4 separate regions of the Homo sapiens genome follow, and all the other regions are linked to region 1. Evidence: fine-mapped expression QTL. A gene starts in region 1. Each other region holds a variant in brackets. All regions are shown on one strand. Distances are from middle to middle.

Region 1 (7,241 bases):
CTCTTCAGTCACCAGGTTAAAGAAGGAAGGAACTTTATTCGGCTGGGAACTTCAGGAGACTTGTGTCTTAAAAGCCGAGCTCCTCGAGTGAGCAATTCCTGTCCTTTTTTAGGGCTTACAACTCTAAGGGCAGGAGCCCAGACACGTGATGCTAATGACAATAGGAACAGTGGCCCCCATTGGCTAATAGCTCACCACCTGCCAGGTGTGGTAGGTACTATCAGTCGCATTTTTTTGTTGTTTTTGGTAGGACAGAGTCTCGCTATGTTGCCCAGGCTGGTCTCAAACTCCTGGGCTCAAGCGATTCTCCCATTTTGGCCTCCCAAAGTGCTGGGATTATAGACCTGAATCACCACACTCGGTCTAGTCTCATTTTATTTTATTTTATTTTTTTGAGACAGACTCTTGCCCTGTCACCCAGGCTGGAGTGCTGTGGCACAATCTCGGCTCACTGCAACCTCCTCCTCCTGGGTTCAAGTGATTCCCCTGCCTCAGCCTCCTGAGTAGCTAGGATTATATGCACATGCCACCACGCCCCAGCTAATTTTTTTTATATTTATTTATTTATTTATTTATATTTTTGAGACGGAGTCTTACTGTGTCGCCAGGCTGGAGTGCAGTGGCATGATCTCGCCTCACTGCAACCTCTGCCTCCCAGGTTCAAGCGATTCTCCTGACTCAGCCTCCCAGGTAGCTGGGACTACAGGTGTGCACCACCATGCCTAGCTAATTTTTGTATTTTTAATAGAGACGGGGTTTCACCATGTAGGCCAGGATGGTCTTAATCTCTTGACCTCCTGATCCGCCTGCCTCAGCATCCCAAAGTGCTGGGATTACAGGCCAATTCTTGTATTTTTAGTAGAGATGGGGTTTCACTATGTTGGCCAGGCTGGTCTCAAACTCCTGACCTCAAGTGATCTGCCCGCCTCAGCCTCCCAAAGTGCTGGAATTAGAGGCTTGAGCCACTGCACCTGGCCTGGTTTAGTCTCCTTTTAGAGATGAGAAAACTGAGGCTCAGGGAGGTAACCTGTTCAAGGTCTTACTGTCTTGAACACCATAGTTGCAAGTGACAGAGCTGAGTCTCACATGCAACCTCAGACCTGATACTGACTCCAGAGCTGTGCGCCTAAGCACTAGAGCACATAGCCTCCTTGCCCCAGGGAAAGAACAATGGGAGGTGGTGGGTGACCTCTGGGTCTCAGGGCCCTGGGATATAGGGACTGTGCCTTTTTTTTTTTTTTTTTTGAGACAAAGTTCCACTCTTGTTGCCCAGGCTGGAGTGCAATGGCGCGATCTTGGCTCACTGCAACCTCTGCCTCCTGAGTTCAATCGATTCTCCTGCCTCAGCCTCCCAAGTAGCTGGGATTACAGGTGTGCACCACCACACCCGGCTAATTTTTGTATTTTTGGTAGAGACGGGGTTTCACCATATTGGTCAGGCTGATCTTGAACTCCTGACCTCAGGTGATCCACCCGCTTTGTCCTCCCAAAATGCCGAGATTACAGGCATGAGTGCCTGCGCCTGGCTGGGACTGTACCTTCTGGATTTTCAAATGAATGAAATGAGTATTTCTTGAGTGTTGGCCACGTGACCCCCCAGCACCATGTCATGTGCTGGGTATGCACACACGATACTGTTTCATCCCCGGACGGCTCCGAGAGATGAGTACCAATATTATCACATCTTACGTAAGAGGACACTGAGTCTCAGAGAGGCAAAGTCAGTGTCCCTGGTGCACCCAGCTAGTGGGGGCTGGGGTGGGTGTGAAGGGGCCAGAAGCTTCCCAATAAGTGCCTGAAGGGCAAGGCTAGGGCATTTGTAGTTCGAGGCTCTACCACTGTGTCTAGGTCAGACCTAGGAATGCCGCAGGTGTTGCATAAATGCTCATCAGTCCAGGCTGGACCGCTCATGCCCAACTAAGTGCCAAGCCTGGCCTGGGTGATCTCACAGCCTGCATTCTTTGCCCTACACCTGTTGTGGGAAAACATACTCCCAGCATGCTGTAAATCCTCTCATTCTTAGCTAACCATGTGACTCCCGTTCTGGGCCAGAAAGATGGTCACAAATACTTAGGACTCTGGCCTTTCCCGCCGCATGGCTACTGACCCCACCCCCTGGGCTTGGAGGGCTCTAGGACCCAGCAACCTGCGCAGGGTGAAGAGTGTGTGAGGTCCTGACCTCCAGGTGTCTCCCCTGTTTCCTCCTCCCATTCCCTCTTCTCTCTCCTCCCTCCTTTTCTCTCCCTTCTCCTCCCCTCTCTTCATCCTTCCTCTTCCTTTGGCTCCCTGCCTCTGCTTCCCTCCTCTCCTGTCCTTTCCCATCCCCTCCCTCCTCAGCCCACATCCTGCTCCTCCCACCGCGGTGGTCACATGGGGGCGCCGCCGGATTTAAGCTTAATCTGCCTGGTGCTCAGCACAGCATCCTGGCTGTGGCGCGTGCTGACTGAGCTAGTCTTGGGGTCCTGGAGAAGGGGGCTGGAGGCATGCCCACAGCCTCCCCCCCATGAGCTTGGGGCTGGCGGGGGCACAGGAGGTGGAGCTGACACTAGAGACGGTTATCCAGGTGGGTCCTGGGGGCTGTGCCCACCCTGTCTGGGGCGGGGCAGCGTGGACTTAACAGGAGTGGTGAGAGGTGTGTGCGTCTTGGGGATCAAGGGGTGGGAGAGGTGTGGTGGTGGTGGGGTATACAGGGGCCCCCCGCTTGCAGTTCCTGGCAAGATGGGGGGCAGAGGTACACACAGGGTGCACCTGCTGTGGCTCCCTCATCCCAGTGCCCTGGGTTGGGAGAAGGGGGTCTCTACTGCCAGATTTTAGGGCTTGGGGGACCTCTGGCATAGCCAGATCCTCATCCATCTAGGGTCGGAACCGGATTGGGGCCCCCAACACTGGACTGCCTCCAGTGGGGTTTGGGAGTTACCCGTAGGGTTTGGTTCTCATCTCTGGCCCTGGGCCTTCTTCCTGGGGCAGTGAGCACACAAGAGGCTCTTTGCATGGGGATTTTTTGGATTCTAACTCCCAGGCTTCACTCCATCTTGAGGGGGCTCCTGGGGACCTGTATCTTGGGCAGTAGGATTCTGTGGCTCTCCCCACGAGGCCAGGGAGCCCCGGGTCCCATGTCCCCTGAAGACCCTCTCGCTTTTCCCACAGACACTGGAGAGCAGCGTCCTGTGCCAGGAGAAAGGCTTGGGCGCGCGGGACCTGGCCCAGGACGCTCAGATCACCAGCCTGCCTGCCCTTATCAGGGAGATTGTCACCCGCAACCTCTCCCAGCCTGAGAGCCCAGGTGCCACCCCCATCCGCTCCCCTCCACAAACACCACCCACATTTTACCTCTTCTCATGTCCCTTTCCTGAGCAGTCACCATGATGATCATGACTGTAACTCACTGTGGGGCAGGCACAGCTTTATGACAGAAGAACCCATTTTACAGATGAGGAAACAGAGGCTCAGGGATGTAATTTGTCCAGACTTATTCCGCATGTGGTGCAACTAGAAGGAAGGGCCGAGCATCTCCTGCGTGCTTGCCTGTAGCCTGCTGCAGAGATGTGAACCCCAAATCCCGTATTCCCACCCGGGGAAGGTGTGAGCTGGCTGAACCCAAGATACAGGAAGAGGGCAGCTCAGCTCAGACCAGGGTTTTGCGGAAGTCTGAGTGGATGGCGCCGTCCATCCGTTTCCCACGTGGGCAGGAAGGCGGATGGTCCCTGCTCCTCTCAGTGGGTGGCGCACACGGTGTAGTTATGTGGCTTGAGGATCTGGGAAAGGCACACTCAGTTGCAGCTGGTGTGCTGGCGTGTGGCGTTTTGGTGCTCTAACCATTGTCTGTGTTCAACTCCCAAGCTACAGACGGGCCCCCTCCTTGGGAGCGCCAGGGATGTTGGCGCCCTGGAGCCCCAGACAGGGAGAGACTCAGAGGGCCCTCACCCTGACACCTGGGGTGTATGTCCAGTTCTCCCAGGGTAGAAGGGGAACCCACAGGAGGTGGACAACCCCGCTTCTCCCGCTGGCCTTTCTTTCCCTCTTCTCTCTTTCTCCTTCTCCTCACAACCTGACCTATGCTATGCTCTCCTGAGCCCTAGCCTTTAAAGTTCCATGAAGCCCTTCTCTTGAGCGAGGCTTTGATGCTTTTCTGGGAGGATCTGGTTACTACTATTCTACCTTTTTTTTTTTTTTTTTTTTTTTTGAGACAGAGTCTCGCTGTGTTGCCCAGGCTGGAGTGCAGTGGCGCAATCTCAGCTCACTGCAACCTCCACCTCCCCGGTTCAAGTGATTCTGCTGTCTCAGCCTCCCAAGTAGCTGGGACTACAGGCATACACCACCATGCCCAGCTAATTTTTGTATTTTTAGTAGAGACAGGGCTTCGCCGTGTTGGCCAGGCTAGTCTCAAACTCCTGACCTCAGGTGATCCTCCTATCTCGACTCCCAAAGTGCTGGGATTACAGGCGTGAGTCCGTGCCCGCCCCACCCATATTACAGATAAGTAAATCTGAGGCCCCGGAGAAGAAGACTAATTGGAAAAGGAGGGAGCAAGAACTCAGGGGTCTCCTGGCTCCTAGACTGAGTGTCTCTCCTGCACCTCCCAAACCTGCTGGGCCACACTTTAGCTGGAGTTGTGTTCACTTTACGTCCAGCTTTGTATCCCCTCCTTGCCTTCCTCCCTGTTCTCAGCTCTGTTTGCAGGCCTGGTGCTGCAGCCATTCCCATCTGGACTCCTCCCAGGGGCCTGGATGGTTTTCTTGCCCTCCCTGTTGGGGGGAGGATGTCCCACTGGACCCAGAAGCCAACCATGTGCCCACTGTCCCTTGCCAGTCCTGCTGCCGGCCACAGAGATGGCATCGCTGCTGTCGCTGCAGGAGGAGAACCAGCTGCTGCAGCAGGAGCTGTCCCGCGTGGAGGACCTGCTGGCCCAGAGCCGTGCCGAGCGCGATGAGCTCGCCATTAAGTACAATGCGGTCAGCGAGAGGGTGGGTGCCGCCCAGGTGGTGGACTAGGCCAGGGTTCCCCTCGTTCAAGGGCAGGGAGGCATCTAGACCAGGCCCACACACGGGGCAAAAGATGGGCCCTGGAGTCAGGTTGGCCTGGGCTTGGATTGAGGCTCTGCCACCTTGAGTGGCGTTGAGCAAATCACTATGCTCTTTAAGCCTGTTTTCTGTAGTGGGGATTGTAATGGGACGTGGAATTGTAGGAATCAAGGAGATAATAGAATAAAGTGCCTGGCACCAGGGGTATTTTGTTCCCATCTGTCCCAGGCCTGTTAGGGGTGTGGGACACGGAGAATGAGATCCCTAAAGATTCCTGCCCCTTGAGTTTCTGGGCATCTCCCATTGCCACGGGCCTTGGGGTTGAGGCGGTGGCTGGATGCTGGCTCGAGGCTGGTGTGGGCACCCGCGGTGTTCTGCAGCCCATCTGGGGCAGCCACAAGACCTGCCGCCACTGCCTATTGGAATGAGTTCCAGGCAGGGAAGGAAGGAGAAGCAGGCCTGTCTTCATGTCCAGGCAGGATTCACATCACCCGTGCTGCAGGCTTGTGGGGGTCCCAGGGTGTGGGGCGGGAGCTGGGTGTGAGCCGGTGCGAGGGGTGCGGGATGCTCTTGATGCACTGTCTGCTTTGGGCCTCCGGGTGGCCGGGAGGTGGCCCTGGGAAGTTGGTGGTGGCTGAAGATTGGTAAGGGACACTCGCAGCTGGGACAGAGTGTATGTGTGCAGATGAGAGGCATGCAGGTGGCAATAACGTATTAACAGTAGCTACTGTTTATTGAGTGCCTACTATGTGCCAGGCGCGTGCTGAGTGTTTCACATTTAATACACCAAGGTCGGGACCATTATGATGCCCATGTAACAGAGGAGAAAACAGAGGCTCAGGGAGGGGAAGCACCATGCTGGGGGCACACAGCCAGTTAAAGTTAGACACCAGGTCTTCCAACTCCCAGCCCAGGGCTCTGTTTGGTTTCTAAACTAACCCAGTCTAGAAACAAAGTTCTGAAGTTTCATTTCCTGTGTATGGGAAGAGACACTGGGCTAGGGATTTCAGGGCACAGCTGGCCCCCACAAAGTTGGAAGGGACCCAGAGAGGCAGGGGCTGGCCCAGGGTCCCCTGTGTGGTAGTGGCAGAGCTAGGGTTGGCATGGGACCCCTGAGCTGGACTTGTCCAGGCTGGAGCCCGCATTGGCAGGAGGGTGTGTGTTCCTGTGTATGACTGTGGGGTGTGCCCGTGTCCTGGGATTTGCCTGGCTGGACAAACCCACGACTAGTTGGGACTTGTAGAGGAGCAGAGTAGGCGGCCCGCAGTGGCCCCTGGCATGAGGACAGTGGAGAGCTCGTTTCCCCAGGGTCTGCAGCGGGTGTGTAGGGCACGCTGGCCCCAGTCATGAATTGTGGGTGGTGATGGGGCCCTGAGCCAGGCACCCCTTTCTTTTGGTCCATGCATGGCACAGTGCCACACCCCCAGGGCCGCCTCTTAAATGCCACCTTCTGAAGCTAGCCCTGCCCCCAGGTTGGCAGGGAAGGGAAGAGGTGGGAGGTAGCAGGTTCCTCCTCTGCTGGGACACAGCTGCTGGGGCTGGGACTGCAGCACAGGGGGTCTGGGTTAGTCTAGAAAGCTCCCTCCTGTGGTTAGTGGGGGCCCAAATGGCACGCAGAGGGCGCCCGCTGCTTCAGTTGTCCTCTATCCACCATGGTTTGAATGAGGCCCCACCTGGAGGCAGGGGTGGAACAGGAATGACCTCAAAGGCCTTTCCTGGAGGGTGGGTCCCCAGAGAACTTCAGAGCCTAGAGATCACCTCATCACAGATAGGGAAAGTAAGTCCGGGAGAGGGGCATGATAGGCCCAAGGTCAGTGGTGGTCCTGGGATGAGACCCTTGGTCCAGGGCTCTGCAGTTGGGCAACATTCTCTTTCCCTGCCACCCCCTTGTCCCCATGGCCACAGGTGGCAGTGCCTGCCCCTGTGGCCCTCACTGGCATGTTGGGCTGGGTTGGTGGGCAGTCAGCGAGATTGTTCTGATCTTTCCAACCCTGCAGCACCCCTGGCATGGGGAGCGGAGGGAGGGTCAGGTCTGTGTCCTGTTAACTGCATGTCCTGCAGGGAAACTGAGGCACTCCCAGAGGCCACCTCCCAGCCGAGAGAGAGGACCTCAGGGCCCCCATGGGGGTCCCCCCTTCTTGCTGTCCCTGAGAAGCAGATGTAGGCGCAGCTGGGAATGGAAAGGAGGGAGTGGTCACGCCTCCCTTGGCTCCAGAGGAC
Region 2 (8,237 bases), 460 kb before region 1:
TTGCTTGAACCCGGGAGATTGCAGTCAGCTGACATCATGCCACTCTAGTCCAGCCTGGGTCACAAGAGCAAGACTCCATCTCAAAAAACAAATAAACAAACAAAAAAAACAGAGGCGTGAAATGAGGACTGTAACCCTTTTCCTGTTTGCCCTGAGAAAACTTGCCAGTGGCACTTCAGACTGCAGCGTTGACCCTGAGATAACTTTGCCACAAAATGTATTGCTTTTATATTATTTTTGCATCGCTCTAGTATATCAGCTTTGGAACAAAAGACATTCTATTTATAGCATTCTGTTTTTAATAGTGGTATTTCCATTTACAAAATATAGTAATTCTGTTTTTTTTTTTTTTTTTTTTTTGAGACAAGGTTTCACTCTGGTTGCCTAGGCTGGAGTGCAGTGGCGTGATGTCGGCTCACTGCATCCTTGACCTTCCAGGCTCAGGTGATTATCCCTTAGCCTCCTGAGTAGCTGGGACTACAGGCAATTGCCACCACACCCGGCTAATTTTTTGTATTTTTAGTAGAGGCGGGGTTTTGCTATGTTGCCCAGGCTGGTCTGGAACTCCTGGAATCCAGCAGTCCGCCTACCTCAGCCTCCCAGAGTGCTGGGATTACAGGCGTGAACTACCATGCCTGGCCCAAAATATAGTAATTATTGATTACTGAAAAAGTCAAATCCTAGAAAACGCAGCATTCTTACATGTGATGTTAACATCGTTCTTGAACAGTTTTTAGCCTAAGATTCATTTGAGGAGTCTGATTTTTCCAAAATAGTTCTGATTATTCAGATGATTCTGAAATAACTCCAAGAACAGTTTTTATATTTTATTTTCACGTTGAAAATCAGTCAGATTTGCTTCAGCCTCAAAGAGCATGTTTATGTAAAATTAAATGAGGGCTGGCAGTGAGCTATATTTTTTCTACATGGGAAAGGGGTTAAGACTCTTCGGCCAGGCATGTTGGCTCACGCCTGTAATCCCAGCACTTTGGGAGGCCAAAGCAGGCAGATCACTTGAGGCCAGGAGTTCGAGACCAGCCTGGGCAACATGGCAAAACCCTGTGTCTACTAAAAGAAATACAAAAATTAACCGGTCATGTAGTTCCAGCTACTAGGGAGGCTGAGGTAGGAGGATCGCTTGAGCTCAAGAGGTTGAGGCTATAGTTGGCCTTGAGTGTGCCACTGCATTCCAGCCTGGGCGACAGTGAGACCCTGTCTCAAAAAAAAAACAAAACAAAAAACAAAACCACAAACAAAAAACTTTGGTAAATACAGTTACATTAACTATTTAAAAAAAAAAAACCATCGAGGGCCAGATTTGGTCTCTGTGCCAGAGTTTGCTGACTGCTGCTCTAGAACATTTAGGAACTGGCTTCTTAGAGCTTTTTCTGTCCAGAGAGAAACCAACTTTTATCTGCTTTGTATTTTCAAAGATCTGAACTCCCCCACCCTTCCCTGTCTTCTCTTTACAGATCAACTTCCAGCCAGACCCAGCCAGGCACAGGCTGGGTCCAGTTCTGACCTGAGCACGGTTTTTCCTCATGTGACTTCTGGGAAGGCGCTCCCTCATCTGGGCCAAAGGAAGGAGGACGAAGCCCTCCTCAGCTGGCCTGTGTTTGGGGCATGAATCTCTCCTCTCCTCCTTGTCTGGCTCTGTTGACAAACCGGGCATGTTTGGCAGTAAATTGGCACCGTGTCACACTGTTTCCTGGGATTCAAGTATGCAACCAGAACACAGGAGAAGAAAAGCTCCAGGATCCCTGTCCCCATCTGTCCTCTTGATGTGAGAGAGACTCTGAGACTTCTTCCATCGCAATGACCTGTATTAAACACAAGCCCCCCAAGCAAAAGAAGAGGTTGAGTTTGCTGCCAGGATTCAGATCAGCCCTTCCCAGGGTCTGCAGGTGTCACATGATCACAGTTCAGCGGGAGGCTTTCCGTACCCACACTGGCTGTAGCCACTTCAGTCCATCTGCCCTCCAGAGGAGGGGTTTCTTCCTGATTTTTAGCAGGTTTAGAGGCTGCAGCTTGAGCTACAATCAGGAGGGAAATTGGAAGGATTAGCAGCTTTTAAAAATGTTTAAATATTTTGCTTTGCTAATGTGCTGATCCGCACTAACTCATCTTTGCAAAAGGAACTGCTCCCTCGGCGTGCCCCAGCTGGGGCCTCTGAAGGGATTCCTCACTGTGGGCAGCTGCCCTGAGCTTCAGGCAGCAGTGTTTATCTCTGGCCAGTTGTCTGGTTTCCATGTATTCTAGGCCAGGTAGGCAACACAGAGCCAAGGCGGGTGCTGGAAGCCAGACGGAACAGTGTTGGGGCAGGAAGGTGGATGCTGTTGTCATGGAGCTGTGGGAGTTGGCACTCTGTCTGCTGGTGGCCCTCTCGGCTCACATGTTCACAGTGCAGCTCCTGGCAGACTTGGGTTTTCTCTTTGGTGGTTTCTAAAGTGCCTTATCTGCAAACAACTTCTTTTCTCCTTCAGGAACTGTGAATGGCTAGAAGAAGGAGCTCAGTAAACTAGAAGTCCAGGGTTGCTTGGTTTACTGGTTTATAAGAAATCTGAAAGCACCTCTGACATTCCTTTTATTAACTCACCTCTCAGTTGAAAGATTTCTTCTTTGAAAGGTCAAGACCGTGAACTGAAAAAAGTGTTGGCCTTTTTGCGGGACCAGATTTTTAAGATAAAATAAATATTTTTACTTCTGTCATTGTATGTGAAAGATGAATGTGTTTCTGGCCGCGTGGCTGTTAAACTCTTCAGGGTGCCACAGCTAGACTCACGGCCACTTCTCTCACCACTGACCAAGTGTCCAGATTGAAAGTTCAGGGCTGGGGTGTGAGGCTGGCCAAAGTGAGGAAATGCAACCTTGTTGTCTAAGGCAATCGGTACCTTCTCTCCTGTGTTCTCTAGGATAGTACAGTCTTTTCATCATCCTTTGGTTGATGTGAAAGTAGTTGCTTGAATCACTTTGTGTGGGGCTTAATTCTCTTGTGGCGTCTCATGATACAGGCCGTTCTAGAGAGCCTGGCCCCTTGCTTTCCGTCTTCCACCAAACCTACCGGCAGAGCATCTCCCTAAGTAGTAAAGGGGTGCAGATACCCAGAGGTCAAAAGTAAAATTAAGAGGCCGGGTGCAGTGGCTCACGCCTGTAATCCCAGCACTTTGAGAGGCCAAGACGGGAGGATCATTTGAGGCTGGGAGTTTGGGACCAGCCTGGGCAACATAGTAAGATGCATTTCTTTCCTTTTTTTTGAGACACAGTCTCAGTCTGTTGCCCTGGCTGGAGTGCAGTGGAGCAATCTTGGTCACTACAACCTCCGCCTCCCAGGTTAAAGTGATTCTCCTACCTCAACCTTTCCAGTAGCTGAGATTACAGGCACCTACCACACCGAGCTAATTTTTGTATTTTTTCAGTAGAGATGGGGTTTCACCATGCTGGCCAGGCTGGTCTCAAACTCCTGACCTCAAGTTATCTGCCCGCCTTGGCCTCCCAAAGTGCTGGGATTATAGGCGTGAGCCACGGCACCCGGCTGTTAGACCCCATTTCTTAAAAAAAAAAAAAAAAAAAAAAATTAGTGTGGTGGTGGTGCATGCTTGGAATCCTAACTACTTGCGAGGCTGAGGTGGGAGAATTGCTTGAGCCCAGGAGTTTGAGGCTGCAGTGAGCTATGATCACGGCCTCGCACTCCAGTCTAGGCAGCAGTGAGACCCTAGAGAATTCTCTAAAAGAATTAAAAATGAAAAAAAGCCACAACACTTCTTTTGCCTGAGGATTCTGTAAGAAGCAGTTTTTATTGTTATGGAAATAGCCACTCTGATTAAGAAACTGTAGAGAGGAGAAAGAAAATGAAAATTGAAGATTCTCTTGCCCATTGAATTAAGGGTAAGGAGATTGCATTAAAGGATCTTCGGGAGCAGTAACTTTTTTATGT[C/T]GATTTCACATAGCATTACTTCACATCGAGTCAGTTTTAAGTACTTGGAGGGTGGAAATCAGAAAGCTTAGATGTAGAGGAAGCTTTATTAGAAGTGTGTACCATGGCTGGGTGTGGTGGCTCATGCCCACAATCCCAGCACTTTGGGAGGCCGAAGTGGGTGGCTTACTTGAGGTTAGGAGTTCGAGACCAGCCTGGCGAACATGGTGAAACCCCGTCTACTAAAAATACAACAATTAGCCAGGCATGGTGGCGCACGCCTGTAATCCCAGCTACTTGAGAAGCTGAGGCATGAGAATTGCCTCCAGGAAGTGGAGGTTGCAGTGAGCTGAGATCATGCCACTGTACTCTAGCCTGGGCAACAGAGCAAGACTGTCTCAAAAGGAAAAAAAAAAAAAGTATGTACCATTGAAGATCAGCACTTGGATTGTGGAGACAGACCTGGCCTTAGGATCTAGGCTATCCCCTGGTTAGACGTGTGGCCACAGGCTGTTCCTTCACCTGAGCGTCACTCGGATGAGGCACTAGCAGATGCACATTGCATTGTTTGACCTTAATGACCTTTCTCTGGAGTCAGGTAAGTACCCAGAACAGTTCATCATGGTAGGGAGGAGGAGGTGGCACAGCTGATGACACAGCCCTCAGGAATCTAGCCTGAAAAGCACCTTGTGGGGTCTGGGGCCAGGAGCAAGGGACAGCTTGATGCTGTCCATCACTAACTGGAATCCCAGCTGGAAAAAACTCATTACAGGACCAGAATCTCCAGGAAAACTCAATCCCAAACCAGGCATCACTTCAATTACACCCCTGACTGGAGTTTACAAACTGGTGGGTGGATGGTAGAAGATGGCTGCTTTCTTGGGGGGTATGCTAGACCTCACTTGCCCTCTGCACAACAGAATTTGGATGCACTGGGAGGTGTGGCAGATAGACTCCCAGGTGGTCACTGTGATCCCCACCTGCTGTTCACAGCCTTATGTACTCCCTGCCCCTTGAGATGGCCTAGACCTGTGACTGCTAACCAGTAGAGTGCCACAAAGGTGACAAGATGTTATTTTCATGGTTGCCTTATGTAAGACTGCAACATCTGCCTTGCTGAGAAATTCTCTTGCTGGCTTTGAAGAAGGAAGCTGTCATGTTGTGTGAGCTGCCCTTGGGAGAGGGTCAGGTGGCTAGGAACTGAGGTAGCCTCTGACAGCCAACAAGAAACTGAAGCTCAGTCCAGCAGTCTGCAAGAAAGCAAATGCTGCCAGCAACCACACAAGCTTGGAGGCTGATCACTCCCAGGTAAGCCTTCAGGTGAGACCCCAGGCCTGACCAACACTGACTGCAGCCTTGCAGAGGACCAGCTAAGCTGTGCCCAGACTGTCCCATAGGAACAGATGGTAAATGTATTGTGTTAAGTCGCTAAGTTTCTGGTAAGGTTATGCAGCAATAGATAACCAACACAAAGGTTAGCAAAGTGTGTTTGAGGTGGGAATCAGTGTGGAAAAGAGAGAATCTGGATAGACTTAATAGCTGTAGGGCCTTGGGAGGTCCCTTATGATGCTCCTTTGGGCCTTCCTGTTGCCTTTAAGTAATGCTTATTGTTTATTGCTAAAGTAATGCTTAACTCTCTGCTAGGCACTATTCTATGCACTTATAAAACTCATTGCATCATCTCTACAACCCCATGAGGTAAGGACTTGTTTTTTTTGTGTTTTGAGACAGTCTCGCTCTGTGGCCCAGGCTGGAATGCAGTGGCATGATCTCAGCTCACTGCAACCTCTGCCTCCTGCGTTCAAGCAGTTCTTCTGCCTCAGCCTCCGAGTAGTTGTGATTACAGACGTGTGCCAGTACTTCCGGCTAATTTTTTTGATTTTTAGTAGAGACGGGGTTTCATCATGTTGGCCAGGCTGGTCTCAAATTCCTGACCTCAAGTGATCAGCCTGCCTTGGCCTCCTAAAATGCTGGGATTACAAGTGTGAGCCACCGCACCTGGCCAGTAAGTACTTGTTTTAGTCTATTTGGGACTATGACAGAATAACATAGCCTGGGTAGTTTATAAACAAAAGAAATTTTTTGCTCACAGTTCTGGAGGCTGGGAAGTCCAAGGCACCAGCAGATTCGGTGTCTGGTGAGGCCGTCTTTTTGCTGTAACCTCACATGGTAGAAGGGGCAATAGAGTACTCTGGGGACTTTTTTTTTTTTTTTTTTTTTTTTTTAAGAGATGGAGTCTTGCTATATTGACCAGGCTGATCTCAAACTCCTGGCCTCAAGTGATCCTCCTGCTTTGGCCGCCCAAAGTGCTGGGCTTAAAGGCATGAGCCACCACATGGGAATGGCACTGCCTTTTTTTTTTTTAAAGATAGTTTTGCTCTTATTGCCCAGGCTGGAGTGTGATCTTGGCTCACTATAACCTCTGCCTGTTGGGTTCAAGCAATTCTCCTGCCTTAGCCTCCCAAGTAGCTGGGACTACAGGCACATGCCACCACGCCCAGCTAATTTTTGTATTTTTAGTCAAGATGGTGTTTTGCCTTATTGGCCAGGCTGGTCTCAAACTCCTGACCTCATGATCCACCTGCCTCAGCCTCCCAAAGTGCTGGGATTATAGGCGTGAGCCACCACACCTGGCTGGGGCTTCCTTATAAGGGCAATACTGTTTGTGAGGGCTCTACGCTTATGACATAATTACCTTCCAAAGAACTCACCTCCAAATACCATCATACTAGGGGTTAGGTTTCAGTATGAATTTGGAGGTGGGGGTGGACACAAATGTTTATAGCAGTACTCATCCCTGTTTCGAAAATGAGAAATGCAGAGAAATTATATAATTTGTTCAAAGTCACATGGTTGGTAAGTGGCAGAGCTGGGATTTGAACCCAGGCAGTCTGGCTCCAGCATCCATGCTTTTAGTCAGGGTGGCTACTTCTTTGGAGCAGTGCTCCCTGCAAAGCCTGGCACATAAGACCCCCTTAATATATGAAAAGTCCCATTCCCTCCACATGGCTTACGAAAGCCGTGGCAAGTAGGAATGACAGGCGAAGGGTGGGGCTTTATTCCATTGGTGATTGAAAGCTACTGAAATGCATCATGGGCACACAGTAGGTGCTTAATAGTTGTCGATTTCTATGAGCTGGGAGTGAGAAAGATACCATGCTCTGTGGACTGAGTGGACTGGAGTAGGGAAAAGACCAATTTTTCCTCACCGCAGCTTGAATGTAGACAGATACTGTTTTTTTTTTTTTTTCTTTTTTTTTTTTTTTTTTTTTTAGCCAACCATACAAAGCCTGTAAGTAGGTACTTTATTTATTTGTATTTTTATTTTTTTTTGAGACAGATTTTCACTCTTGTTGCCCAGGCTAGAGTGCAATGGTGCAATCTTAGCTCACTGCAACCTCCACCTCCCAGGTTTAAGCGATTCTCCTGCCTCAGCCTCCCAAGTAGCTGGGATTACAGGCTTCCGCCACCATGCCTGGCTAATTTTTGTATTTTTAGTAGAGACAAGGTTTCATCCTGTTGGCCAGGCTGGTCTCAAACTCCTGACCTCAGGTGATCCGCCTACCTCAGCCTCCCAAAGTGCTGGGATTACAGGCATGAGCCACCACACCCGCCCAAAATGACCTGCATTTGTCATCTCCGCTTCTGTGGTCAGGAATCTGGTGCAGCTCAGCTGGGTCACAGGCCTCTCACAGGCTGCAGTCAAGGTGTCAGTCGAGGCCGCACTGTCATCTTAAGGCCCAGCAGGGAAAGCGTTTGCTTCCAAGCTCGCTCACGTGGTTTTGGGCATGATTCTGTTCCTCGTGGCTGTTGGACAGAGGTCACTCTCATTTTCTTTCCACGTAGGCCTCTGCATAGTTCACATCTTTGCAGTTGCTTCATTGAAGCCAGCAAACGTGATTGTGGCAAGATAGCAGTCATAGTTTTAATTCCAGAAATGATCCCATCCCTTGGCTGGGTCTTCAGAGTAGAAGTCACAAGTCCTGTCCGCACTAAGTGGAGGGTGTGGATACCAGGAGGCAAGGATCATTGAGAGCCATCTTAGAAGTCTACCTGGCCGGGGTGCAGTGGCTCACGCCTGTAATCCCAGCACTCTGAGAGGCTGAGGTGGGCCGATCACGAGGCCAACAGATGAAGACCATCCGGGCCAACAAGGTGAAACCCCGCCTCTTCTAAAAATTAGCTGGGCGTGGTGGAATGCGCCTGTAGTCCCAGCTACTCGGGGGGCTGAGGCAGGAGAATCACTTGAACCCAGGAGGCAGAGGTTGCAGTGAGCCGAGATTGTGCCACTGCACTCCAGCCTGGCAACAAAGCAAGACTTCGT
Region 3 (8,237 bases), 64 kb after region 1:
TCTGTGACCATCTGAGCCCTGTCCCTCTTCCCGATGAGACTGTCATCTTGCCCCGTGAAGGCCAGGACCAAGGCTGTTTTTGCTCATCTTCAGTTTTGCTCATTAAGTTCAGAGCCCGGCTCAGAGCAGCAGTTCAGCAAACATTGGTGGAATGAATGAGTGAACTGTACACTAAACTCTTCCCGGAGAAGCTGGCTGGGGGTGCAGATCCTCTGCGTGAGGGGCAGCCTTCAGCCCTGCCCAGGAGCCTAGGCCTGAGGCGGGAGTGAGAGTTGTAGGGGCTGCGGGCTGGGAGGAGATGAGGATGGCCCCTGATTTAGACCCTTGCCATCTGATCTCTTCATCGCCAGTCATTCCCCCACCTCCCTTAGACTCTGAGTCTTAGGGAGGGAGTAAATATGCCCTGTGCCTCCTTCATTCCCATGCCCCGCCCCCCAGTGTCTATTGCAGGGCAGCAGAGACTTTTGTCACCTGGAGAGAGGTGGGCCCTCAGGCCAGGCCAGCCCAGCCCTCTCTGCCTGCCCTTAGACCCCACTGCTGCCAGGAGCAATCCCACTGGCAAAAGAGAGGAACTCACCCAGCAGAAATGCTGTCCCCTACCCTTGAAAAAAGGAGGGAGGTTGGGTGCAGTGGCTCACACCTGTAATCTCAGCAGTTTAGGAGACCAAGGCGGGTGGACCGCTTGAGCCCAGGGGTTTGAGACCAGCCTGGACAGCATGGCAAAACCCCATCTCTACAAAAAATACAAAAATTAGCTGGGTGTGGTGGTGCTGGCCTATAGTCCCAGCTACTCAGGAGGTTGAGGTAGGAGGATCACCTGAGCCTGGGGAGGTAGAGGCTGCAGTGAGCCACGATTGCACCACTGCACTCCAGCCTGGGCAACAGAGCAAGACCCTGTCTGAAAAAAAAAAAAGAAAAGAAAAGAAAAACTGGGAAACTGAGGGGCTAAAGCTGACAATTCGTGTCCTGGCTCCCATGTCCTCTCTGCTGCTTCTACCCATTCCCCTGGCTGTTTCTTTGGGCAGGGGAGGGGATGGGGCTGTGGTTGCTGTGCTCCCACTACGTCTTTGGAGATGTGCTCCTTCCCTGCCAGGCTTTCACGCTGGATGGTGAACTGCTCGCAGGGTTAGACCATGTTTTTGTCCCGTTTTATTCAGTTTGTTGAGTTAGTCCTGGTGCCTGGCACACACCTGTCCAACAGATTCATGAATAATCAGCTAAGGGTAGAGGAGGGATTTGAACCCAGGCCTCTCTGTGGCTTCCTCTTAAACAGCATCTACCACCCTGAACCGTCGCTGGCTGGCAACACAGTGCCAGGAGCAGAGGTCCACTGTGATGTGCCTCCTGGCAGGACTTTCATCTTCACACCCACATCCCTTCTCCCCAGCATGATTCAACGTTTTCTCAGCCCCTACTCTGGCAGGCCTGGGGATAGCACCAGGGGTTCCAGGAATGAGGTTGGCCAGGGCTTTTGGAAGGCAGGAAACAGCCGGTCTTTCCTGTTCTCCCCTGCCCAGATGAGCCAGACGGCCAAGCTGCCTCTCTAGAGCAGAGGGGCTTGGCCAGGGGCCCGCTGGTGAGATGAGCTCAGAGGCACCCACCCTTCCCTGAGGGATGATGCGCGTGGTTCTGGCTGGGAGATGTGGGCTCCGAGCCTGGATTTCATCTGAGGAAGGAACTGCCCACAAACATGTCCCAGGATGCTGGGGTGGGACGGGGAGGGGGTAAGGTGGGAGAGAGGGAGCTGCCCCCTAGCAAATGCCTCCCAGGCAAGCCTACATCTCCTTGTCCTCCAAAGGAGGGTAGGAGGGTTAGGAACATCGAAGCTGGAGTCAAAGCTATCCGGCCCCACTCTGACTACTTGTGTAACCTCTAAGCCTTGGTTTCTTCATCTGTAAAATGGGAATAGTACCACAGTTGTTGGAAGGATGACATGACAATGTGTGTAAAATGCTAAATGGGGCCAAGCGCAGTGGCTCACGCCTGTAATCCCAGCACTTTGGGAGGCCAAGGTGGGCGGATCACCTGAGGTCAGGAGTTCGAGACCAGCCTGGCCAACATGACGAAACCCTGTCTCTACTAAAAATACAAAATTTAGCTGGGCGTGGTGGCACATGCCTGTAATCCCAGCTACTCGGGAGGCTGAGGCAGGAGAATCGCTTGAACCTGGGAAGCGGAGGTTGCAGTGAGCAGAGATCACCCCACTGTACTCCAGCCTGGGTGACAGAGCAAGACTCCATCTCAAGAAAAAAAAAAAAAAAAAAAAAAGCTAAACGGAATATCCAGGCACATGCTGGACACAGAGGAAACATTATTACTGTGAGATGAGGGAACACAGGCCCAGAGAGGGGAGTTGGCCAATGGAGTCTGAAAAACCAGGGGGTTCCAGGGGGTTGTCAGGCTGAAAAACCAGCCTGAAAAACCAGCCCCCCAGGGGGTTCCAGGGGCAGACACGTGCAGGGGCTGCCAGCTGGGCACCCGGGGGTATGTGCATTTCCTCCTGGGCAGGTGGGAGGGTCTATGGTGCCAGGTACAAGACAGGCACAGCAGAGCCAGGAAAATATCATGACTTTATTTGCTACACTGACAGCAGCACTGAGGGGAGCTGGGGGCTGCCACCCCTACGCGGGATGGTCCAAGGTAGGGGACAGTAGTCAACGCTTCCCCAGGGTGGGGGTGGTCTCGGGGGAGGAGTGTAGACAGTCGCCAACCTCAGGGATGTGGGAGGTGGTGGCGGTGGTGTTGCTGGAGAGGGGTCCAGTTGGTGGCTCAGAGGCAGGGAGTTCCAGTGTCTGGGGTGCCCGTGGGCCTGCACTACCTCAGGGGGCCGGCGGGCAGCGGCGGCCAGGGCTGCTCGGCCAGCTCTCGTTCCAGCTGCTTGAAGCGCTTCTTGGAGGCCCGCTTGGGCCGGAGGCGGCGCAGGCAGGCGGGGAGGCACTGGTCTAGCACGCTCTGCAAAGGGCAGGGAGGGTGTCAGGGGCAGCCGGGGCTGAGCTGGGGTCAATGCACCCCCACCTCCCTTCTCTCCCGCTGCTGAGACCCAGGGCGGGCCCCACCTCCAGCATGAAGGCCCCCACGAAGTTGAGGGTGACCAGACCCAGCAGCAGCAGCTTGAAGCCGGTGTCAGTGATGTTCCTCAGCGCCAGCGGCCCCTGCAGGAGGCCGGGGACCAGGACAAGGCCCACCAGGACGGAGCTCAGGAGCGCCAGGGCCACCAGGAAGGGCACTGGGAGCAGGAGAGTCTCTCAGGCAGGAGCCACGCCCCCCCGGCACCCACAGACACACGTGTGCACGCCAGTCTTCCACTCGGCCGGCACCTCTCTCCCATCTGCCTCCCCAGCA[CCCCAGGGCTCCT/C]CCCTCCCTCCGCCAGCATCTCCCGCCCGCGCCCGCAGTGGCACCATTGGTGTAGAGCGGCCGGCGGAAGGGCGCCCCCTTGGACACGGCTGCAGCCAGGATGAGGTACTGGAAGCTGGACAGAGAGAAGACCACGGTGTTCTCGTAGTTGGGCAGGTTGTCTGGTGCGGCCACTGTCCTGTTCAGAGGCACGAACCTGGGGGTACAGGGATGGGGGTCAGGGAACGAACGTGGGGTGGACAGGGAAGGGGCGGGATGGGGGTGGTCAGTCAGCTCCCTACTCACCATGGCTGGGCCAGGGTCAGGAAGTAGCCCCCTAGCTGCACGCCGGTCACCAGGACCATCTGCAGCAGCAGGCTGCTGAGCACGGGCACGCTGAGCAGCGCCCCCGGTGGCCGCACCCGTCCCAGGACCAGCGCTGGCCCCGTGCGGCTCATGAGCACTGCCACTGTGGTGGTGATGACCAGGTCGATGGCCAGGAACTGCAGGTCACCCAGGTTGGTGTTGATCTGCCACAGGGAAGGGAGGACAGAGGGGAAACTAAGACCTGGCCCTGGCAGCCCCTAGTCTGATAGCAGAGGCCCCACCCCTGCCCCGAAGGAATCTGATGGGTAAGGCATCCCCCAGTCTAATGGGGGCCGTACTCTCCTGCCAGCCCAGCGGAGGAGGTGCCGCTCTTGATGTGAGACAAACCCCTGGTCTGATGGAAAGGGCACCTGTGCTGACCTTGGGGGCCTAAATCTGAGGGGAGGTTTCCCTCCCTGTAACAAACTCCCGGCCCGAAGGGGAGGCTTCGGCTCTGCCTTGCGGAGTCCCTATAGCTACCAGGGCATGCACAGTTCCTGCCCTCAGGGAGCTCCTCGCTTTCAGGCAGACACAGGGACAGACCCAAGTATAAGATGTGCGCCGCCCTGCAGTGTCACCTCATTCGCTGGGGGTGAGCAGGCCATGCCCAGAGCAGGGGAGGGGAGAGCTCCTCCAAGTAGGGTGTGGGAGGTACAGCCAAGGTATGGGGCAAAGCAAGTGCATCTGGGGAAATGGGCAGACCTGTGGGGATGGGGCGGGGGCGAGGGTTTTGGCCCTGCCTCCGTTCAGTCTTCCCTGCAGATTGGGGAGCTCCCAGAGTTGCGGTCAAGATGTTAGCCCATGACAGCTGCTGCCATTTGTGAGGACCTAGTGGGTACCAGGCTCCGTGCCTGGTGTTTTTCTCATCTCCCCCAAGCCTTGCCACCTCTCCAACCACACAGCCGGAGAGTGGCAGGGTCAGGATCTGGGCCCACGTCATCTATTCTGGGACCTGCCAGCTCCAAGGCACAGGGCTGTGTCCCCTCCCTAGTCCTGGGACGGCTCTGGGTACGGAGCTCTGCAGATACTCACCGTGTAGAGGATCAGGACGGAGATGAACTGGGTCAGGCTGTACAGAGCCATGTACTTGAAGACGCTGAACGAAGTGTCAAGGGAACAGCGCCCCTCCCTGGGTGGCAGGGCACGGACATTAGGGGACCCAGGTTGGCTGACCAGCCCTGCTGAGCCCTCACCCACCGGTCCCTGCCTGCCTTACCTGATGACCATGGGCACGCACTCAATACTGGCCATGCTCGAGGTGAAGGGTGAGACCACTGAGGCTTCTGCCTGGGACAGCGAGATGCCGACATCAGCCGCCTTCAGGGCCCCACAGTCATTGGCGCCGTCTCCGCACATGCCCACGCAGTACCTGAAGAGAGGTGTGGACAGGTGTGGCCTGGGGAATTACCCCACCACCCCATGGGTGGGCTGGCAGAATATGATGACAGCTGGGCCCCTAATGCCACATGGTGCCTGGTGTACAGGAGGCGCTCAGTGAATAGATGCAATTATTATTATTATTATCATTATTATTATTATTTTTTGAGACGGAGTTTCACTCTTGTTGCCCAGGCTGGAGTGTAATGGCATGATCTCAGCTCACTGCAACCTCTGCCTCCTGGGCTCAAGTGATTCTCCTGCTTCAGCCTCCCAAGTAGCTGGGATTACAGACGCCCGCCACCACGCCTGGCTAATTTTTTGTATTTTTAGTAGAGATGGGGTTTCACCATGTTGGCCAGGCTGGTCTTAAACTCCTGATCTCAGGTGATCCACCCGCCTCGGCCTCCCAAAGTGCTGGGATTACAGGCATGAGCCACCGTGCCCGGCCTATTATTTTTTGAGACAGAGTCTCCCTCTGTTGCCCAGGCTAGAGTGCAGTGGCGTGATCTCTGCTCACTACAACCTCCTCTGCTGCCCAAGTGCCCTCAGCCTCTTGAGTAGCTGGGATTACTGGTGTGCGCCACCATGCCCAACTAATTTTTGTATTTTTAGTAGAGACAGGGTTTCACCATGTTGGCCAGGCTGGTCTTGAACTCCTGACCTCAGGTGATCTGCCTGCCTCAGCCTCCCAAAGCGCTGGGATTACTGGCATGAGCCACCGCGCCTGGCCTATTACTATTTTTTGAGACGGAGTCTCGCTCTGTTGCCCAGGCTGAAGTGCAGTGGTGTGATCATGGCTCACTGCAGCCGCAGCCTCCCAGGCTCAAGCAACCCTCCTGCCTCAGCCTCTTGAGTAGCTGGGATGACCGGTGTGTCACCACACCTGGCTAATTTTTAAATTTTTAATAAGAGATGGGGTCTCACTTTGTTGCCCAGGCTGGCCTCAAACTCCTGGGCTCAAGTGATCCTCCCACCTCGGCCACTCAAAGAGGTGGGATTACAGGAATGAGCCACCGCACCCAGCCTACAATTATTATTTTTAGCATGAAAGACCTGGGAGAGCCTGCCTGCTTTTGGTGAGGAGGGGTGACAGCTCTCTGGTGCCTGAGGAGGGAGACAGGGCCCTGGGGAAGGACAGATGAACAGACGAACGGACAAGCTCAGTCTCCGCAGGCCCTTGCCCACACCCTCTGCCGAGCACTCACTGAAGCTTCTGTAGCTCGCACACCAGCTCTGTCTTCTGCTCAGGGGCCATGCGGGCAAAGACAGTGCCCTGGACCAGGACCTGGGAGCACAGGGAGATGGGGGAGGGCTGAGGCACCCACCAGGGAGAGCGAGCCGTGAGGAAGGAGACAGAGCAGGGGAGGCGCAGGGCGGCCAGGGAGCTGGGGGCGGCCCTACCTTGGGCAGCAGCTTGGGGAAGTGCTTCACAATGATACCAAAGGTGGGCCCGCTGAGGGCCAGGTGCCTGGATCGGGGGTCTGGCTCCACGGTGTAGCTTGCAGCCTGGTCAGGATCCTGGGGGCCCAGGAAGCTCAGCTTAGCTCCCCCTGCCCACCCTGGAGAGTTGGGGCCTGGGTCAGGTGACACAGGGGTGGGGTCACTGGGTGAGGTACAGCTGGAACTCTGGGTTAGCCTCACCTTAACGCCATTCACGGCTGTGGGGGACTCCATCGGCAGGAACTCGAGAGAGGCAGGCTGACCCCGCTCAGGGTGGGTGGCGTGGACGATGATCAGATGCTCCTGGGGGGCCACCATGCCACAGCCCCGGGCCACAGTCACCGCTGTCTGCAGGTTGTCCCCTGGGGGTTATGGGGCAAGGTGAGGGTCTGAGGCTATCCGGGGAGGCCATCCTCATCCTGATCCTTACAGATGGGAAAACAGGCTGGATGAAATCCGTCTGCCACCACCAGCCAAGTGAGCTGAGGCAGGTTACCAACATCCCTTTGCCTCAGTTTTCTCATCTGTAGATCCAGGCATTGAAGGGTCTTAGGAGAACCTGGAGCCGTGGGCTGGAGCTCCACATATACTCCTTTTTTTTCTTTTTTTAAGACAAGAGTCTCTCTCTGTGGCCCAGGCTGGAGTGCAGTGGCTTGATCTCGGCTCACTGCAACCTCCTTCCTCCTGGGCTCAAGCAATTCTCCTGCCTCAGCCTCTTGAGTAGCTGGGATTACAGGAGGGTGCGACCACACCAGGCTAATTTTTTTTGCATTTTTAGTAGAGATGGGGTTTCACCATGTTGGCCAGTCTGGTCTTGAACTCCTGGCCTCAGGTGATCCCCCTGCCTCGGCCTCCCGGAGTGCTGGGATTACAGGCACGAGCCATGTGCCCAGGCTACATATACTCCTTACTGCTGTGTGACTCTGCTGCCAAGTGCCCATGAATGTGTGTGCACATATGTGTGTGTGCAGGGGCGGGGAGGACAAGGACACAGACCTCTTAGCTCCTGCTGTCTCACCCTAGCTAGAATCTTTTTTTTTTTGAGACTGGGTCTCTCTCTGTTGCCCAGGCTGGAGTGAAATGGCGTGATCTCAGCTCACTGCAACCTCCACCTCCCGGGTTGAAGTGATTCTCCTGCCTCAGCCTCCCGAGTAGCTGGGATTACAGGCATCCACCACCATACCTGGCTAATTTTTTGTATTTTTAGTAGAGACGGGGTTTCACTATGTTGGCCAGGTTGGTCTCGAACTCCTGACCTCAAGTGATCCGCCCGCGTCGGCCTCCCAAAGTGCTGGGATTACAGGCGTGAGACACTGTGCCCGGCCATTTTCGTATTCTTTGTAGAGACGGAGTTTTGCCATGTTGCCCAGGTTGGTCTTGAACTCCAGGGTTCAAGACATCCTTCTCCTTTGGCCTCCCAAAGTGCTGGGATTACAGGCATGAAGTACCGTGCCCGGCCAGAATCTTTCTCTTCCTGCTCCTTGAGCTTGTCACAGCCTCTGAGGCTGACATCATTATCCCCATTTCTCAGAGGTGCCACCTGGAACCCAGGCTGTCTGACAGCGCACATGGGTTCCTTGGAAGTCACTCCACTCCTCTGAGTCTCAGTTTCCTCATCTGTCAAACAGGGGTGACAATTACCACTTGCGGGGGGGATATTGTGAAGATTCACGAAATGTTTAAAAAGGACCTGGCCTGAAGCAAGGGCCCAAAAAGAT
Region 4 (8,237 bases), 240 kb before region 1:
ATGGGTTGCATGTAACAGGCATGTTTACTCAGCATGCATGCAGCAGGATCCCTTCATGAATATTCAGAGCTCCTCCTATTCCCTGTTGAATATGTATATGTGGCCCACCACATCAACATAAATCCCTGTTCCCCCCTCCCCTCCCTGGAAACGTACTTTTCAGGTTTCAGCAGCAAGAGGGTATGCCTCCCTGTCTGTCAGAATGGCCACCTTGCAGGCTGTAACCCTTTATAAAAAATAAAATCTCCCTTCTAAATTTATAAATTGTGTGATTTTTCAGTTGACAGCTTTCAGTCAGACTTTTCACTGACTGGGAAAAGTCATTTGCAATATATTTATTTTAAAAATGACTCCTCAGGATACAAAATTCTTGTGCAAAAATCACAAGCATTCTTATACACCAATAACAGACAAACAGAGAGCCAAATCATTAGTGAACTCCCATTCACAATTGCTTCAAAGAGAATAAAATACCTAGGAATCCAACTTACAAGGGATGTGAAGGACCTCTTCAAGGAGAACTACAAAACACTGCTCAACAAAATAAAAGAGGATACAAACAAATGGAAGAACATTCCACGCTCATGGGTAGGAAGAATCACTATCGTGAAAATGGTCATACTGCCCAAGGTAATTTATAGATTCCCTGCCATCCCCATCAAGCTACCAATGACTTTCTTCACAGAATTGGAAAAAACTACTTTAAAGTTCATATGGAACCAAAAGAGAGCCCGCATCGCCATGTCAATCCTAAGCCAAAAGAACAAAGCTGGAGGCATCACGCTACCTGACTTCAAATGATACTACAAGGCTACAGTAACCAAAACAGCATGGTACTGGTACCAAAACAGAGATATAGACCAATGGAGGAGAACAGAGCCCTCAGAAATAATGCCACACATCTACAACTATCTGATCTTTGACAAACCTGACAAAAACAAGAAATGGGGAAAGGATTCCTTATTTAATAAATGGTGCTGGGAAAACTGGCTAGCCATATGTTGAAAGCTGAAACTGGATCCCTGTTCTCATTGCTTGCACCTGGGAGACACAGGTTGCAGTGAACTGAGATTGAGCCATGGCACTCCAGCCTGGGTGACAGAACGAGACTACATCTCAATAATAATAATAATAGTAATAATTTACTGTTCTCATAAAAATTAGCGGATGGGGAATGGAGGCAAGCCGGTGCAAACCATGACAACTAGTTTAGATTTTATTGTCAACTCATGAAAAACTCGTTCTCATTTTGTGTTTTTAAAAAATTCCACTGATACAGCCGTTTTCTCTACCGAAAAAGACTATAACCGCATTATTTCATCACTGGAAGCTACAGACAGAGGGCCCTTGAGAGGCGGCATCTTCACCTACGGGAATGTTTCCTGCTCAATTGTGAGACAAAGAGCATGTCCAAGTTTTCCTATAGGCCAGGCCGCCCCCTAGTTTCTGCGCTGTGGGCTAAACTCCAGAAGCTGGCGCCCTTCAGGGCCAGAGGTTTCCTGTGCTCTCTGGAGGCTGCTAGGATTAAAGGCAAAGCAAACGACAGGTCTATTAGCCACAGTTGCAGGATAGAAAACACTACTGTGACTCAGATTAGAACAGAGGTTGTGGCAACCACAACTACAAGTATTAACCACTACACGACCACAAAGTCTGCTGACAACCATTGCACTTCTTCTATTTTTTTAATGTAAAAACACTCACACTATTTTATCTGGTTTATTCTAGGACGTCCGCAGATTTTTGTGCTTTTCTGTCTTTCATGTGCTTCTCCCTTTCTCTCCCCATTCTGCTACATAATTTAAAAAAAATCTCTTCTCTCAGGATCCAGCCACTGCCTCTACAACAAGCCTCCTGGGAGGTCTCTTTGTCCCATTGACATCTCTGCCTTCTTTCGCTGCTTTTTTTTTTTTTTTTTTTTTTGACGGAGTCTCGCTCTGTCGCCCAGGTGGAGTGCAGTAGCGCGATCTTGGCTCACTGCAACCTTTGCCTCCTGGGTTCAAGCGATTCTCCTGCCTCAGCGTCCCAAGTATAGCGTCCCAAGAATAGCAGGTGCATGCCACCACATTCGGCTAATTTTTGTATTTTTAGTAGAGATGGGATTTTTCCATGTTAGCCAGGCTGGTCTTGAACTCTTGACCTCAAGCGATCCATCCGCCTTGGCCTCACAAAATGCTGGGATTACAGGCGTGTGCCAACGTGCCCGGCCAAATTTCAGGCCAACACCTGTTGACACACATTGCCAGACACACGGAATCCCTCGCGGAACACCGATGGGCCCACAAAACACGCGGGGGCTGCGGTCGCTGATGATGTGAGCAAATTCGATTCACGGTGTCTGGGGTACAGCCCTGAGGGTTCACTGGCCACCTCTGCGCAAGGACCAGTCTCCGCCGCTCCCCTCATCTCCACGCAGATTCTTGCCCACACACCTCCCCTTTCTTTGGGCCGATGACAACTCTTGGACCTCTGAGGTGACTGTCCTGCCCGCAGCTTCTCTCCTTCCAAGAGTGTCATTTCTTGATCCTCTCCATAGTGGCTCAACGGTAAGCCCAAGGTCCAGCACGCGAATCAGGAAACTGATGGTTCTTTGGGTTTGCAGGGATCCTTCCAGTGAATAAATGAAAGTAACAGGTACCAGTATCAAAACTGCAGTGACTCACCAGAGACACTTCATGCTTGCCAGCTTGCTAAGCTGTTTGAGTCCAACAACTGCATGGGGTCCTGGGTTAGTCTCCTGCCGCTACTTTGGTGAGTGTTGTTGTCACTTTACCTTGTGGTGGCCAAGCCCCTAAATGCACTCTTGGGTTATGCAGTATAATTTTCAGCGTAAAAGACAAGTAAAGAGCCATAGCGAAGTGAAAAACAACCACGTGCAGTGGCCGGGAATTGAACCCGGGTCTCCCGCATGGGAGGCGAGAATTCTACCACTAAACCACCAACGCCTCTCTGGAACTACCCCCTGGAGGATAACAGAAAAGAGTAACCACAAAGATTTAGAAACTGTTCTAAGCGGTTTTTTCAAGTGTCGACTAAAAGCTAACAAAGACATCCAAACCAAATGTGTTTTTATAGGAAACTTTTATTAGACAACGTTATAAATATCAAAATAGCTCATTTGTCGGATCAAACTCTTAACTCTGAAAAAGGTCTTTCTACCTGCATTACAAACCCCTATAATAAAACATCAGAAATTCATTCATGTTTCTTTTTTCTAATCCTAAATCTTCCATCATCAACCTCAAACTGCTGCCTTAGAGGTTCTGAGAAGGTAACCTAACTGGTAGTTTAGGTAAGTAAAGTTCAAATCCAGGGAGGAAATAAGAAGCAGAAGCAGAATTAGAAGAAAGACGAAATAAAAGGACAGAACCACGGTAGAGATAATGAAGAAACAAAGGTTGGTCCACTAAGTTAGTCTTTTGTCGTTGGTTTTTTTTGGCAAAAGAGTAATGATCGGTCTCGTAATCATTATAATACTATTATTTGTCTGCTTGAAGATGTATAAAGCATTTGAAGGAAATGTGATGTGAAAAGATGAAGAACGCTTGCCGTCAATGTTTCATTGTTTGGGAGAATCCCATTTCCTAAGTTAATATGCTTTGATGTGTTAGCTATGTAAGCAGTAGACTAGTTTAAGGAAATATTGACGGTCAAATATTAACATATTAGTCTTTTGATGAAGTTCAAATATTAGAGAGATTTCTTTCCTCAATTTTCAATGGAGACATTCAACTGAAGAGACAAATCCAGAGTTTTCTCCACATGTTGGGTCTGGGAGTCATTATGACTTTTTCAAAGACAGGAGCTGTGACAT[G/A]GAATCATGCTTCTTCTCAAGCTGAGAAGCCAAGCTAGGTCCAGGCTGAGTCATAAACTTGAGCCCACCAAGGAAATCATCCTTCACATTGACCTCGCAGAGCTTTGGCTGTTCTCTGTTCTTTGCCCAACACCCAAGACACACACCAGCTCTGGCCAACAAACCTTAACATATGATCTATATCAACCAAAGCTACATTTATTCCCAAATCTCCTTCTAAAATACAAACCTGTACTTTCTACTCTCAACTTCTAAATCTACCAAGGCCTCATATGCATCTGAGTCACAGATGCTAAAACTTAACCGGTTTTCTGAGGATTATTTGAGGAAGGGGTATGCATGCAAATGTATATACATAATTCATGTGATTTAGGAATATGGACTCTATGACTTCCAGATGCAGATTTAGAACCTTTTTAAAAAATATTTTGTTTTTGTTGTCTTGCAAATCAGCCAGATCTGCAACTTACCAGAGTAAAGCCAAACCAAGCGGGACCCTTAGGAAATGCGCTAAGATGTCATCCACTTTCAGTGTCAGCCTGTGAAAATTCAGGCGACAGAAGAGAATAAAGAGAATCTTAAGGAATTTCTGGAACCAAAGCTAATATTAAGCAGGCCTCTTGCTGGCAGACCAGTGGAAATTGTACCTGGTCAACAATCTGTCTAGATTGAGGAGGTCTAAAATGTAGCCACAGGTTCAAATACTTTTCTGTTTGTTTCCCAACCTCGATTAAACTCACAAAATTTAGGGACCAAAAAAACAAACAAACAAACAAAAAAAAAAACAAACCACGACGTTCCCACCCAGTCTCGAATCAGGGACTTTTCTCGTGTGAGGCGAACATGATAACCACTACACCACAGAAACTGCATATGCACCAAAAAAGGCAAAATATCATCATGAAAATCTTAGATCAGCCATTTCTATTATCGTTTCCAAAGTAAGAAATTCAACTGCATTTCGAAATTCGACTGAAAAAAGCCCAATAAGCACCAGCCATCAAGAAGACTATGGCTCCCAATAGGCCCAGGCTTAGCGTTCCGCGCCCACCCCCAACACGAAAACCATGGGGACCCACACCCGGGCTTCGGGGACACATACCCGGGCTTCGGGCTCCCGCATCCTCCCCTGGGTATGCAGTTCCAGAACTAAGCGCCGTGTGCGGGATCCTCCCGGCTGACACTCTTCGGCTCCCAGAAGCTGCAGGAGCCGGCGGGCTTTGAGCCTCCGAGCCCTGGGCGCCCCGTGCCTCTCAGGAGGGTGGACGCCGCCCTTCCAGGGATGCGGACCCCGCCTCGGGGCCTTTTCCCCGGCGCCGGCCGTCGGGGCTCTTGGCTCTTCTCGTCCTCCCAGGAACCGTAGAACCCTCCTTGCCCTCCCTCCCGTAGGCCGAGGGGCGTGAGCTGCGCCTGTTTCCTCACGGACCCTTTGGCCTCAGCGCCTCGATGTCTTGCAATTCTTAGCTCACGGCTCTTCCTCCTATAACAAGGCCCTTCCATGTCATGTCCCCTACTCCCTCTTAGCACCAGAGAGATGTCTCCCCTGCCCCACAGGTCACATTCCATGAGTGGTGAAGTTTCTAGAGTTGTAACCATGGCATCTCCAGCCCTGTGTGTTCCTCTCCATGCTCCCCATTGAGCAGTCTTGATCCTATATTAGCCCCAGGAAATGAAATAGAAACAGGACCCTACGTTAAAAAGTTGCAGTGGAGATGTGGTGGCCACCAGGGGCTGGAACTGTGGGGTGACTGAGAGTATCCAAAGCCCTGTGGCCAACTTACTGGTGCTGAGTGTGCTGGTGAGCCTCTCTGTCAGCTGGCTTCCCCGGGCCAGTTGCTCCCGGAAGCTCTGTCCCAGGTAGTAGTCAATGTCATTGCTCCTTAGGAGATCCTCAAAAGATTTTACTGTATCTTTTGCATGCTGGGTGAGAAGATAACAAACACCTCTCCCTTCTCGTATTTTTTGCCGTAGGTAAGACAGTTCCCGGGCCTGATCCTGAATCAGGGAATCATATTTCCTAATGCAGGACAGAAGAGGAAAGGGTGGATGATAAGTTATGGGGGCTTCTGTAGAGATTTCTATGAGAACATCTCTAAGGAACTCCCCCAAACTGAATTCTGGCACATAAGCCATAGGAGGCATTTAACAGCAAATTCTACCCTGATAAAGTATCGCACTAAAAATTTTAGTATGGGCCGGGCGTGGTGGCTCATGCCTGTAATCCCAGCACTTTGGGAGGCTGAGGCAGGCAGATCATAGGTCAAGAGTTCGTGACAAGCCTGGCCAATATGGTGAAACCCCTCCTCTACTAAAAACACACACAAAAATTAGCTGGGCATGGTGGCACATGCCTGTAATCCCAGCTACTTGGGAGGCTGAGGGAGGAGAATTGCTTGAACCTGGGAGGTAGAGGTTGCAGTGAGCCGAGATGGCACCACTGCACTCCAGCCTGGGTGACAGAGTGAGACTCTGTATCAAAACAAAACAAAACAAAAATTTACCATGCCACTGTTCTTCAACTGTTATATATATGTTAATTATATGTCCCTAGATAAATTTTTTGGGAGCTGGGCCTCCAGCTGGGATACTCTCTGGAGGAGACTCTTCAGGTCCTTTTTGGCCTGAAGTCCTGGAGAGTAGAAAGCCCCAGTGCCATCAGACAGCCACAACTCATCCTCATCAGTGACACTATGAGGTGAAGACCCCTCCAGGGTGTCAGGAGCTCTCAGCTTCCAGGGTCTTTCCAGACTAGATGAATAATCACTTGTAACCAAGAGGGACTGGACCCGGTTCTTGAGGTTTTGAATGACCTTGTTGGCATTCTGCAGCTGGGCCTTCAGATCTTTGATGTCCTTTCATAGGACCCAGATGTTTTCTGACTTTCCATATACCCAGAACTCTTCCTGCCTCCCTAGTTCATTCTCCAAGGGCTTCCTCTCAGAGGAACTAGCCAGCGTTCAGCCCCGGCGCCCCTGCTCAGAGCACAGCCCCTCCACCAGGACCATTTCCTTGCGGCTGCTGTGCTCCTCATGCTCTGAAAAAAGACAAAGATGTCTTCCTAAATAAAAGTTGGATGTGCTGTTGTGGCCACTGCCTTTGAGAGGAGGCAGGTTTGGTCATGAGGACAATAATTACTAGGGAATAAGGTGAAGTCGTACTTTATTCAACCCTGACACTGTACTAGGCATTCAAATACAGTATTTCTTATCCTCCTTATACCCACAAGTTAGGTTTCACCACTTTCTATTTTACTGACTGGGGAAACCAAAACTTAAAGAGAGGTGGTAAACCAGCTTGTTCTAGATCACTCAAACTAGCACATGGCAGAGCCTGAATTCAAATCCTCCAACGTCCTGTGTTCATTCCACACACACTGATGTTTCTCAAGCCATTAACATGGCCTTATCTAGTTAGGATAGCCACAAGAACGCAGGACAAGCTATTTCTGCATGCTGCAAGTTTAATGCTCTCTAAAGTTTACTATAATTTAAAAGTTTATTGGGTTACCACTGTGTGAAAAATAGGCATAGGAAAATAAGACTTCGAATAAATATATCAGCATGTTAACATCAGTGTATTGGGGCAGTGGTAGTCAGAATGAGAACTAATCCACAGCATTTTACCTGATGCCAGACACTGTTCTAAAGCATTTTATAAGAATTTACTCATTTAATTCACATTAGTATCTGATGGGGTAGGTAGTTCCTTTATTACTATTTTAACATATGAAGAAACTGGGGCATAGGAAAGTTTACAAATTGGGATTTGAAGCAACAAGTCTGGCCCCAGGATCTTTTCTCTTAACTGCCACACTACACTTCCTCAAGAATGAGAGAGACTGTGTTTTTCTTCTCTTCTGGTTTTCTTTTTTTTTTTTTTTAGTTTGTAAGCAAACATTTATAGCCATGATTCCACAGATGTGGTAAGTAAACCAACAGCCATTCCTAAATAAAATACAAGAATTTCCATCATGCATAGTTTACAGGCTTGGTAAGAAGCAGTCTCTTTAGGGGCTAGATGCTTAAGAAATATTCAACAAACAATGAAATCTTGGCTTTTTTTTTTTTTTTTACACAAATGTTTGGTTATTTAGCCACATTAGTGATAAAACATATTCATATTCTAACTGCAAGTGGAATAAACATTGCAACAAAAATGCAACCCAATCAAAATCATTAGTAATAACTATTACTCCCTCTTAGCAGTAAGAACCATTATTCTTGGATTTCAAACATTTTATTTTCTGTGCATAGCTTATAGCACTGTATTATAGGAATCAGAGTGTATAAGCAAAAAAATGAAATAAAACTTCTTGAAGACCATTTCCATTATTTATGATTAAATCAATGAAACTATACAATTTCCACATTAAATACAAATTAGTAAAAGAATTCCTCCAAGTAGTATTGCATATAAGCTACAA

Evidence for each region.
Region 2: its variant is fine-mapped to the expression of CROCC in whole blood (TOPMed, PIP 0.95).
Region 3: its variant is fine-mapped to the expression of CROCC in whole blood (INTERVAL, PIP 0.92).
Region 4: its variant is fine-mapped to the expression of CROCC in whole blood (INTERVAL, PIP 0.98).

The regions. Positions count from the first base shown.
Region 1 is chr1:16,919,516-16,926,756 of GRCh38, forward strand. CROCC (ciliary rootlet coiled-coil, rootletin) reads left to right here and starts at 2,416. Exons shown (of 37, transcript NM_014675.5): 1 at 2,416-2,563; 2 at 3,148-3,283; 3 at 4,810-4,964. The coding sequence starts at 2,504. RefSeq lists enhancers at 1,058-1,830, 1,831-2,602, 2,603-3,374, 3,375-4,146, 4,330-4,940 and 1 more.
Region 2 is chr1:16,457,370-16,465,606 of GRCh38, forward strand. NECAP2 (NECAP endocytosis associated 2) reads left to right here. Exons shown (of 8, transcript NM_018090.5): 8 at 1,473-2,709. The coding sequence ends at 1,521. LINC01772 (long intergenic non-protein coding RNA 1772) reads left to right here and starts at 3,579. Exons shown (of 2, transcript NR_147210.1): 1 at 3,579-5,918. The variant C/T (reference allele first, on the strand shown) is at 3,935.
Region 3 is chr1:16,983,407-16,991,643 of GRCh38, forward strand. ATP13A2 (ATPase cation transporting 13A2) reads right to left here. Exons shown (of 29, transcript NM_022089.4): 21 at 6,721-6,881; 22 at 6,481-6,597; 23 at 6,285-6,364; 24 at 4,916-5,068; 25 at 4,732-4,828; 26 at 3,640-3,863; 27 at 3,399-3,550; 28 at 3,057-3,226; 29 at 2,552-2,952. The coding sequence ends at 2,815. Among named protein-coding and RNA genes, the nearest start is that of MFAP2, 6.9 kb to the left of the region's middle. The variant CCCCAGGGCTCCT/C (reference allele first, on the strand shown) is at 3,343.
Region 4 is chr1:16,675,397-16,683,633 of GRCh38, forward strand. It overlaps TRG-CCC4-1 (tRNA-Gly (CCC) 4-1), which reads right to left and starts at 2,945; the gene lies at 2,875-2,945. It also overlaps the pseudogene EIF1AXP1. RefSeq lists an enhancer at 1,454-1,503 and a silencer at 1,534-1,683. The variant G/A (reference allele first, on the strand shown) is at 3,815.